Homo sapiens: one gene and its partners. The protein of the gene in region 1 purifies or fractionates together with the protein of each later gene. This does not show direct contact. Each region holds a gene or a part of one and is shown in the gene's direction. Other genes may lie near its edges. The genes, in order: TRIM35, PPP2R1B and KDM5C.

The links.
Region 2: the proteins of TRIM35 (region 1) and PPP2R1B purify together in Homo sapiens (affinity purification with mass spectrometry; 2 studies listed by BioGRID and IntAct, with this or other methods). This does not show direct contact.
Region 3: the proteins of TRIM35 (region 1) and KDM5C purify together in Homo sapiens (affinity purification with mass spectrometry; 2 studies listed by BioGRID and IntAct, with this or other methods). This does not show direct contact.

What each region holds. Positions count from the first base shown.
Region 1 is NC_000008.11:27,304,645-27,308,393, reverse strand, and holds part of TRIM35 (E3 ubiquitin-protein ligase TRIM35), read left to right. Parts: intron 1-3,550; exon of another isoform or gene 3,551-3,633; intron 3,634-3,749. UniProt on the Homo sapiens protein: E3 ubiquitin-protein ligase that participates in multiple biological processes including cell death, glucose metabolism, and in particular, the innate immune response.
Region 2 is NC_000011.10:111,752,722-111,756,470, reverse strand, and holds part of PPP2R1B (serine/threonine-protein phosphatase 2A 65 kDa regulatory subunit A beta isoform), read left to right. Parts: intron 1-1,020; coding exon 1,021-1,176; intron 1,177-1,376; coding exon 1,377-1,491; intron 1,492-1,901; coding exon 1,902-1,972; intron 1,973-2,893; coding exon 2,894-3,028; intron 3,029-3,749. UniProt on the Homo sapiens protein: The PR65 subunit of protein phosphatase 2A serves as a scaffolding molecule to coordinate the assembly of the catalytic subunit and a variable regulatory B subunit.
Region 3 is NC_000023.11:53,197,551-53,201,299, reverse strand, and holds part of KDM5C (lysine-specific demethylase 5C), read left to right. Parts: intron 1-2,141; coding exon 2,142-2,323; intron 2,324-2,354; exon of another isoform or gene 2,355-2,411; coding exon 2,412-2,536; intron 2,537-2,662; coding exon 2,663-2,810; intron 2,811-3,423; coding exon 3,424-3,529; intron 3,530-3,749. UniProt on the Homo sapiens protein: Histone demethylase that specifically demethylates 'Lys-4' of histone H3, thereby playing a central role in histone code. Does not demethylate histone H3 'Lys-9', H3 'Lys-27', H3 'Lys-36', H3 'Lys-79' or H4 'Lys-20'.

The sequences.
Region 1 (3,749 bases):
ACTTTGCCAACTATCTATGTGAGGAACAGCAAAGTCAAAATCATCCCAGCTAACACATTTCAGTGCTCACTGTGTGCTAGATGCTTTTCAGTGTTCACACGTCAACAAATTTAATGCTCACAAAAACGTATTTTCAGGTCCTGTGTTTCCTGTTACTGCGTAATAAATGTGGTGGTTTAAAATAGCACAAGTTTGTTCTCTTATGGTTCTGGAGGTTGGAAGTCCTAAAATCGAGGTGTCTGCAGGGCTACATTCCTTTTGGAGGCTCCAGGGAGAATTTATTTCCTTGCCTTCTCCAGCTTGCAGAGGCCCCTTCTTCCAGCTCTGAAGTGTGTCATTCCGTTCTGCATCTGTTGTCACTTTGACTTCTTTGACCAGTTCTACTACCTCCCTCTCATAAGGACCCTGTGATGACATTGGGCCCACCCAGGTAATCCAGGATAACCTCCCCACAGCAAGATCCTTAATTTAATCATCTGCACAGTCCCTTTTGCCATACAAGATTCTGGGGATTAGAATGGGGACATCTTTTCGGGGAAATAATTATTCAGCTTGCTACAGTTAGGTGCTATTATCCCCATTTTATAGACAATTATAGAATCATAGAGAGGGTAAGAAACTTGTCCAAAGTCACAGAGCAAGTAGCTCTAAAGATCACCTGGAGCCTTGTTCAGTTCACACACTGGTCCTGGACTTTGAGAGAGGTTTCTCTCATCTCAGACTTCAGCGGGCAGCTGACTGTGTGTTAGGGGTTGGAGTGGCTGTTGACCATTGTCAGGGCTGGCAGAAGGTACTGGTTGTGTGCCAGTACTGTGTCCAGGACAGGACCGGACAGTCCTAGACCTTGCCTTTGTGGGCATGGTTGTATCATCTCACTAATAATTACATAGTTTCAGCTCAACATTCCTGTGAAGGACAGTACAGGATGTGGTGGGAGATTGTAAGGGGGAGGCTGCTCTTGTTTGGTGGGGTGTGGGAAGGAGTCTCCAAGGAAGTGATTTCGCTGAGAGGAGCTGATTGAGGGGCGGCGAGCAGTGTGTGTGTGTGGCGGGGGTGTGGCGGCGGGGCACAGCGTGGGGGTGTGCAGTGACTGAGAGATGGTTCACGTGGGGATGAGGAACTGCAGGACAGATCCCACAGGACACAGAGGGCCCTGCTTAGGAGCTGGGATTTTTATCGTAGGTGCAGTGGCGCATGATGGAAGGACTGATGAGATTTGGGAGCCTGGCATCATGTTTACAGCAGAGCTGTAGCAAGGAACAGTGCTTGGAAGGACCTTCAGAAATCCTAGTCTGGCGTTTCTCAAACTTGAACAAGTATGCATTCTTCTTAAAGGAAAAAATAGTCTAGCCAGTGAGAGTTAAATTATGTTATTATTTACATGCATACAAATGCAAACCTGGTATAAATAGCACTTGCTCATGCTACATATAAGCAATAAAACAAAAGGAAGTGAACAGACTGAATACAAAACTATAATCAATAACATTCCACTTAAAATATTAATTCTAAAGTTTTATTTTGCTGGAACAAAATCTCTACTCCTGGCCAAGATACTTCTGATTCTCCCATTACTCTGTTCCAAGTGACTACTTAATCCGCCCAAATTTCTCTGAAGAGCTCTGGAGCTTTCTTGTTACGGGATTGGCCTTCATTTGGGTCCGGCACATTCTTTACCTGCTATGTGTATTTCTCTTCTTTCCTTATCAGGACAAGACGATGAAAGTCATGTCTTGATATCAAGTAAGCTGTTAAGAAAATATGAATGGTGGCCGGGTGTGGTGGCTCATGCCTGTAATCCCAGCACTTTGGGAGGCCGAGGCAGGCAGATCACGAGGTCAGGAGTTCGAGACCAGCCTGGCCAGTATGGTGAAACCCCATCTCTACTAAAAATGCAAAAATTAACCAGGCATGGTGGCAGGTACCTGTAGTCCCAGCTACTTGGGAGGCTGAGGCAGGAGAATCGCTTAAACCCGGGAGATGGAGGTTGCAGTGAGCCGAGATCGTGCCACTGCCCTCCAGCCTGTACGACAGAGCAAGACACTGTCTCAAAAAAAAAAAAAAGAAAGAAAAAAAGAAAATACGAATGCTGATGATGAAGTTGTGAACTGAAAGCATGTGTCAGCGCTGTTTATGTCGTGGCTTGGAGTAGGATTGTCTTAGGTTTGGTTTAGGTTGCCATTAAATGAAAACATCCTCAGACACAGACCGTGCGTCATTCTATTGTGATGGAATGGTTACATCTTGTGAGGAGGTGGTTACATCTAAGTAATGAGAAGTGGATCAAGGCCAGTGTGTTTCATGCCTGTAATCCCAGTGCTTGGGGAGGCTGAGGCAGGAGGATTGCTTGAGGCCAGTAGTTCAAGATCCTGCACCAAAGAAGAAAAAAATTAGCCGGGTGTGGTGGCACATACCTGTAGTCCCAGCTACTCGAGGGGCTGAGATGGGAGGATTGCTTGAGGCCAGGCATTCGAGGGTGCAGTGAGCTATGACTGGGCCACTGCATCCAGCCTGGGCAACAGTGTGAGACCCTGTATCTTACATAAATAAATAAATAAAGTTCTAGGATCAGAACTCAGGTTTCCTGCCTCCCAGTCCAGCACTCTCCAGCTTGCATCTTCTACAGCAGCCCTGTGCTGAGCTGCCTTGTGCAGACCCTTGTCTTATCCATCTTGCAGGACTGGCATGATGACCATTCTTTGCCACCAGCCTCTCCCTGTCCCAGCTCCAGCCCTCTCTCCCCTTCTGGCGTCAACATCTTAGAGTCCATCTGGCTGGATCTAACCCAAGGGTACTCTCGATACCTCTTAAGCCACATTCCAGGTCTTCCCCCTTCCAATGCTTTTCCCCATTTCCTAACCACTCACCCCCATCCTGATCCCCAGCTTCTAGGTGAGGACTTACCAGCTCTTTGGTTGCACCAGAGGACATTGTTGCTTGCTTGCTTGTCCAGGCCTGTGCCCAGTGGTATTGGGAGTGGGGGGTGTCTCACTAGACCCTGCACACTGAGGCTCCTGAGTGATGGCCTCCAGCAGTGGGCTGCATGGCAGACACTTGCTTTGGAAGGAGGTCTGAACACAAAGGGGAAAGACAGATCTGGGAGACTGATTTGGAGTTGCATAAGAAAGCTCCATGCATTTTTACTGTTCATTTAAGAAACCTGGACCATATCCAGCAGGACAGTTAGGTTACCTGGCATGTAGGTGGCACTTAAGAGCTATGCCGAATGCACAGCATGTGCCTGCCACTCTCATGTAAGCATCTTATAGGGATTGATTTGTGGAGTCCTCACAGCAGTCCTTTGAGCTTGGTAGTATTTTTTATCCCTCTTATCCAGATGAGGAAATGGAGGTGCAGAGAAGTGAAGGAACATGTTCAAGATCACCTGCTACTAGGTAGAGGTGCTGGGATTTGAACCTGGTCGGCCAGGTGCCAGAACTCTTGGCTGCTACATCAATCTGCCTGAAAACAAATCGTGAAATTTGGGAGACTGTAGAGACTTCTCTGCTTTCATTTTTAAGGTGAGGAGCCTGATAGCCGAAGAGAGAAGGAACTTTTTACCAACTCACCAGTGGATAGTGACAAAGACAAGGCTCCAAACCAGCTCTCCTAACCTTCAGTCCAGGAGGCAAGGTATATAGCAGAAAAAACACAGGCATTCCATGTACTCATTGACTGGGCAGGTGGTTAACTGAACATCTACTTTGTGCAGGGACTTGGACATGCAGGGGACAAAACAAAGTCTCTCA
Region 2 (3,749 bases), on another chromosome or scaffold:
TTGTACAAATATTGTTTTCATTTTTATCCCTCAACTTTCTGTTATAGTAAGGCTTTGAAGGCATCATTAAAATGTTTTTTTTTTCTTTTTTACTTAATTTTAAAATTTTCATTTCCTTTATAGAAACTCTGCATTCTAGCCAAGGTAATTACTTTGCTGTTTACTCATAGTACAAAGTCATTTCTATCTTTATGACTTTGACATGCCATTCCAGGCAAAGGGAGCAGCTCTTTCTTTTTTTTTTTTTCCTTTTTGTTTTTTGAGACAGAGTGTCACTCTGTCGCCCAGACTGGAGTGCAGTGGTGCAGTCTCGGCTCACTGCAAGCTCCGCCTGCTGGGTTCACGCCATTCGCCTGCCTCAGCCTCCCGAGTAGCTGGGACTACAGGCACCCGCCACCACGCCTGGCTAATTTTTTTTGTATTTTTAGTAGAGATGGGGTTTCACCGTGTTAGCTAGGATGGTTTCCCTCTCCTGACCTCGTGATCCGCCTGCCTCAGCCTCCCAGAGTGCTGGTATTACAGACGTGAGCCACTGGGCCCGGCCGGGAGCAGCTCTTTCAAGATATAAATACACGGCCAGGCGCAGTGGCTCGCGCTTGTAATCCCAGCACCCAGCACTTTGGGAGGCCGAGGCAGGTGGATCATTTGAGGTCAGGAGTTTGAAACCAGGCTGGCCAACGTGGTGAAACTCTGTCTCTACTAAAAATACAAAAATTAGCTGGGCGTGGTGGCTCCTGCCTGTAATCCCAGCTACTCGGGAGGCTGAGGCAGGAGAATCACTTGAGCCTGGGAGGCGGATGTTGGAATGAGCGGAGATTGTGCCACTGCACTCCAATCTGGGTGACAGAGTGAGACCCTGCCTCAAAAAAAAAAAAAAAAAGAAAAAGATGTCAAGACGTGAAACTATATAAGGTGTGGCAGTCTTGGTGGTGTTAATTTTTTTAAACACCTGCACCACCCCACAGCAGTTCCCCATGGGTCTCAGTAAATGTCTGAATTACAGAAATTTTGTTCCTTTAGGATTCAGTGCGCCTCCTTGCTGTGGAAGCTTGTGTCAGTATTGCCCAGTTATTGTCTCAGGATGACCTTGAGACTTTGGTGATGCCTACACTTCGACAAGCAGCAGAAGATAAATCTTGGCGCGTTCGCTATATGGTGGCTGACAGATTTTCAGAGGTAAAGTGATCATTTTTAAGTACTAAGGAAATAAACCTGAAAACACATAGATTTGCTGTTGTACCCAAAGTTTCTGAATTAATTCTTTTCAATGGGAAGTGCTGTGGCAAAAATATGTATTTACAGATTGCACAATTTTGTTTTGTTCTTGTTAATTCTTTTGTTAGTATACATTAAAACCCGTTCAAATTCTTTTATAGCTCCAGAAAGCCATGGGTCCTAAAATCACCCTAAATGACCTCATCCCCGCCTTTCAGAACCTACTTAAAGACTGTGAAGCTGAAGTCCGGGCAGCTGCTGCCCACAAAGTAAAAGGTTAAGGAGTTCAATTTATGTTGGAACATGTGTCATTCATTTTGGTGCATTTTTTTGTTAGTCAATTTTGCATGTTTTTTGTTCTAGAATATGTTTTTAAAATACATAGGGATGTTTTTAGTGTGTGGAAATGTTACATTGTCACTTAAAGATAGTCTCTTTATATTTAAAACCAAGAAATCATTTTGTCTTGTTTTTGTAAAAAAAAAAATGCCTTTCAGGTTGGATTGGTGTGATATGCAATGGCATAGAGAGTTCACGAAAAAGTTTATTTAGAACAAGAGCTGTTTTCCTTATTTGCTTAAACATATAATTTAATTGAAATTATTGATAAACCTGGTTAAATGTCCTCATTTGGCTCTTTGTAAATGGCCCTGTGAAAGCATTCTTTTTTTCTATTTATCTTTTAGAACTTGGTGAGAACTTGCCCATTGAAGATAGAGAGACCATAATTATGAATCAAATTCTGCCTTATATAAAGGTAAACCTGACTTTATTTTGTTTCACTCTCTTTTATATGAAGGTAAACCTTAATCTCATTATTTTTGTTTGTTTGTTTACCTTAAAGCTCTTTGAGTTTAAAGGTTGACAGGGAATGAATGGGGAAGATGTGTTAATGTGCAACATTGTTATTCATCACTTATTAGCCCATTGTAATTGTAAACTGCTCTTTGGTGCATAGGTTTATGTTACCTAACAAGTAGTCTGAGGAAACATTATCAACTAATCAGTATTGAAATAGTGCTGTCTTTAAATTCCTTGGGGTCAGGCATGGTGGTACATGCCTGTAATCCAAGCACTTTGGGACGCTGAGGTGGGAGGATTTCTTGAGCCCAGGAGTTTGAGACCAGCCTGGGCAACATAGTGAGACCCCATTGCTACAAAAAATACAAAAATTAGTTGAGCCTGGTGGCATGCACCTGTAGTACCAGCTACTTGGGAGTCTGAGGTGGGAGGATTGCTTGAGCCCAGGAGGTTGAGATGGCAGTGAGCTATGATCATGCCACTGTACTCCAGCCTAGGTGACAGGGTGAGACACTGTCTCAAAAAAAAAAAAATTAGGCCAGGCGTGGTGGCTCACACCTGTAATCCCAGCGCTTTGAGAGGCCAAGGTAAGAGGATTGCATGAACCCAGGAGTTCAAGACCAGCCCTGGCAATGTAGTAAGAACCTGTCTCTGCAAAAAATGAAAAAAATTAGCCAGGCCTGGTGGTGCATGTCTGTAGACCCAGCTACTCTGGAGGCTGAAGTGCTTGAGCCTGGGAGGGTGAGGCTGCAGTGAGCCAAGGTCATGCCACTGCACTCCAGCCTGGGCAACAGAGCAAGACTCTGTTTCCCAGAATAATGGTATGGAAGTTTCTGTTGTCTTGTAATAAAGGCTTTTAATTTCGATTTTATTTTAGGAATTAGTATCCGATACCAATCAACATGTCAAATCGGCTCTAGCTTCTGTAATTATGGGATTGTCTACTATTTTGGGCAAAGAAAATACCATTGAACATCTTCTACCTCTTTTCTTAGCTCAGTTAAAGGATGAGGTGGGTCTTGCTTTATGTTCTGTTGCCTTTGATAGTAATTTGATTTTATTTGATTTTGGTTTAGGGTTTCATTAAAATAGAACCCCCAAAAAGAAAATGGATAAAAAAATCATAACTTATTTTAAACCAATGACACCTGTGATTTTGGGTATGGGGTTATAGGTTCCTCAGAAAGTGGGCAAAAGTACCCATTAGAGTAAACCTAGAAATATCTGTTTATCATCTTTACCTGATTTTTGCTTTATACTCCCTGGTTTCTTTAAAGCTAATGTGTCTTTGTTTAAAAAGTTTCATTTATTTAAGTTTAAATATAGTATCAAAAATTATAATGATACCTAATATTTACTGAGTAATTACTACATGGCAAGCATGAGCCTTAGTGCTTTGCATGTATTTTTACATGCAATTCTCACAACAATCCTGTGAGGTAGGTCTTATTATTATCCCTTTTTGTTTGTTTGTTTGTTTGTTTTGTTTTTTGAGACGGAGTCTTGCTCTGTCGCCCAGGCTGGAGTGCAGTGGCGCAATCTCTGCTCACTGCAAGCTCCGCCTCCTGAGTTGATGCCATTCTCTTGCCTCAGCCTCCTGAGTAGCTGGGACTACAGGCGCCTGCCACAGCACCCAGCTAATTTTTTGTATTTTTAGTAGAGACGGGGTTTCACTGTGGTCTCGATCTCCTGACCTCGTGATCTGCCCGTCTCGGCCTCCCAAAGTGCTGGGA
Region 3 (3,749 bases), on another chromosome or scaffold:
ATTAAAGATAATGTTTGCTTAGTGACTGACCCATGGCAGGTACTGGTATAGCAGCTATTTATCATTATTTACATGACCTAGCAAAATAGACTGGCATATGAAACCTCACTGCTGATTATCTAGGTGACTGTATCAAGTTACTTGATCTTTCATATCTCACTTTCCTACTCTAAAGTGGGAATAAATACCTAACTTGCAAGATGTAAGGTTAGAGTAAGGTGATTTATATGAAAGCCATCTCTCTAACATTGCCTTTGCAATGTTGCAGCTGCTATTATTGGTAATGTTAATACATGAAGAAACTGATTGAAATTTGGAATGTTTCTCAGGAATTGCCATTTTATTACATGCAGATGGTTTATTAACTCCAGCTAGGGCAATAATATTACCAAGCTGAAGGTGGTCCTGCTTTAATTGATTTCTTGTAAGCTTGTGTCAGTTGTGTGTGTAGCTGAGTGGAAGCTGCTACAGAGCTCTAAAGTCCACTCGTGTAGTTTCAGCCATCATCTTCAAATTTCACACTTGCCCAGTTAGGGAATTGACTTTGTGAGAGTCTTTCATAAGATTACAAAGGAGTGCTGGTTCTGTGGGATCCCTTGCTGCCTATCTAGGGTAATACTTTCTTATTTTAAAGCTCATTTATAGCTTTCCTGTGAGTGTGGGCTATAGGGAGAACTATAGCTACAGTAGTGTTGGAAGTCTGGGGCCTCTCAGTCGTGGTGTAAGTTGTTGAGTCCCTGGGCTTTTCCAGGCATCATTTTCTCACTCTGTTCAGTACTGTTATTAAATGATGGCCGTGTGGCTGTGCCAAGCTGTGGGAAGGAGCCAAAGCAAGGTGGGGAGAATAGACCTTCTCATCTTGACATTCAGAATTCTTCACACTTGGCCCTTACCTCAGAGAAGCATTCTGGACACCATAGTCTTGGAATCCTGTAAGAGATTGTATGTGTATTTAAGTATGTTTCTGGGAAGAGGACTTATAGTTTACATCCAATTCTCAGGAGTCTGTAGTCCAAAAAAACCCTAGAGACTTCATCCTTAGAATATTCTCTGGCTTTAGAGTCAAAATTAACTCAGTTTGGCAAGTTACTGACCCTGAGACTTAGTTTCTGCCTTAGTAAAATGAGATAGGCCTGTGGAATATATATTCTTATCTGAAAATTAGAGCTAATAACAGTAAATATTTGATGAACACTGAATCTAAGTGCTGAGATACTTGTCTGATTCCATAGCTGCTTTATTTTTGTTAATCCTCATAACAACCCAACAAGGATGATACTGTTTATCTCCATCTTACTAGATAATGAAACAGACCCAGAGACGTTAAATGATTTACTCATGATCACACAGCATATAAGTGGCAGAGTGGGATTTGGGCTCATAACTTATGCAGAGATTAGGTGTTAAAGTTGGTATGTAAGACAAAAACTGTTAAGAGTTGACATTTCCCATTAAAATCCCTAAAATTGCCCATTAGATATACACACTGGGTTGTCTCTCGATTACTCCAATATAGCCAGCTTTTCCTTCATTTTTGAAATGGATTGCTTTTTCTTTATCTGAGCAACAGATGAAGTCATTGGATTAGGTTTGGAAACCATATTGTTGGGAGAAAATTATTATATCTCTTTAAACCCTGAACACAAGCACATACGGTTGAATTTCTCTAAGTTATATATGTGCACAAGTATCTCCTGCCTACTAAGTGGCCAGCGTGGTGCCTGGAACACAGTGGGCTCTGAGTAACTGGAAGCCGATATTGTTCCCCAGTACACATAACTAGCCAGGCCTGTCCCTTGGCCACTTGCACTCATTGCCACCTCTCTGGTATCTTGGTCCACCACTTTCCTCACTTCTCACCCACAAGACCCTTTCTGCTGATCTGGATCTTACCTGATTTTTCTTCCTCTATAAAATTATCTGACTCAGCGCACACTGATCTTGCCCTGGTTTATCTGATTCCCCAAGCTTTGAGAGTCTAGACTTTACAAAGGGCAGGTATGCTCCCTGGGGTTTGGCCTCTTAAACCCCATGACCCTCAGCATAGATTTGAATCTAAAGTAGGGGTCGGTGGTGGCTGAGATGGAGGATTTTGCTACCTGGTTCTGGTTATATATAACGCATAGGTTAAATGCCCTTAGGGTATCACAGAGGCTGAGCGAGAGGCTTTCGAGCTGCTCCCAGATGATGAGCGCCAGTGTATCAAGTGCAAGACTACGTGTTTCCTGTCAGCCCTGGCCTGCTACGACTGCCCAGACGGCCTTGTCTGCCTTTCCCACATCAATGATCTCTGCAAGTGCTCCAGTAGCCGGCAGTACCTGCGGTGAGCATGGGCCTTTCTGGAGGAAGTGGGGCAAGAAGGAGGATGGAGAGCTGGGCCAGACATGCTCTTGCCTGCCCTCTTCCTCCAGGTATCGGTATACCTTGGATGAGCTTCCTGCCATGCTGCATAAGCTGAAGGTTCGGGCTGAGTCCTTTGACACCTGGGCCAACAAAGTGCGAGTGGCCCTGGAGGTGGAGGATGGGCGGAAGCGCAGTGAGTGATGGGGGGGATGGAGGGACTCCACAGGCAAGTTCTATTCCCTTTCTTCTGTACTCTGACCCCCTTCCTCTGCCTCTATTCAATACTGCCTACTCTTTGCTGCCCTCATTTTTCTTCCAGGCCTTGAAGAACTGAGGGCACTAGAGTCTGAAGCCCGTGAGCGGAGGTTTCCTAATAGTGAGCTGCTGCAGCAACTAAAGAACTGCCTGAGTGAGGCAGAGGCTTGCGTGTCCCGAGCTCTGGGACTGGTCAGCGGCCAGGAAGCTGGGTATGACAGCGTGAGGAGTTAGGGCACACATAAGGTGCTGAGGATCCAGCACCGAGGAAAAGTGCTGCAAGGGGTAGACTGTGAATACCATTTGGCAGAATGGACATCAGCAGGAAGCTGCCAGGCACAAGAGTGTGAGATGGCCTGGAAGGTGTTGGGGGGGACAAGGAGACCAGGCCACCTAAAAAGGAGAGGAGAGCCTCTGTGATAAGAAAGCTAGAAGTGTTTATTTTTTATCAGTACCTGGAAGTGGCCTGAGAGAGAGGCTGAGGGGTTTTGTGGGCAGGGAAGAGTTGTGGGAGGCTTACGGGTAAGAACAGGACAAAGATGTATAGACCTGATCCCTGCTAACACAGCTTTAGAGTTCACAGTAGAGGATGGATTGCAAAGTGTAGCTCTTATTACAACCCATTAGTTTCTAATTCTTTCCCCTCATAATATGAACATGCTCTATAATTTAAAACCTTCCCTCTAACCTGGGCAATTGGGGCAAATTTGAAATATGCGAGATCAAGGTGGACAGGTGTAGTGAGGAAAGGTGTTCAGTCTTAGCATAGACATGGAGGGAAGGCACTGAGTTTGGACCTGAAACCTCACATGTGATACTTCATAGCCCCCACAGGGTGGCTGGTCTACAGATGACCCTGACTGAGCTCCGGGCCTTTCTGGACCAGATGAACAACCTGCCTTGCGCCATGCACCAGATTGGGGATGTCAAGGTGAGGACGCTTGGAGTGCTGATGAGGGATCAAGGGGACCAGGGGACCTGAGCAGCAGGCCATGCTTGGCTCCTTTCAAAAGCTTAAAGTGTTCAGGCAAGACAGGACACACGTGTGAGAAAAGAACAGGTGGGAGGGGTGAGGCAAGGGTCTAGTGACTTGTCTGTTAGAAATGGGCCTTGAGGGTCAGGTGGCAAGGGTATGGGTATAGGATACAGAG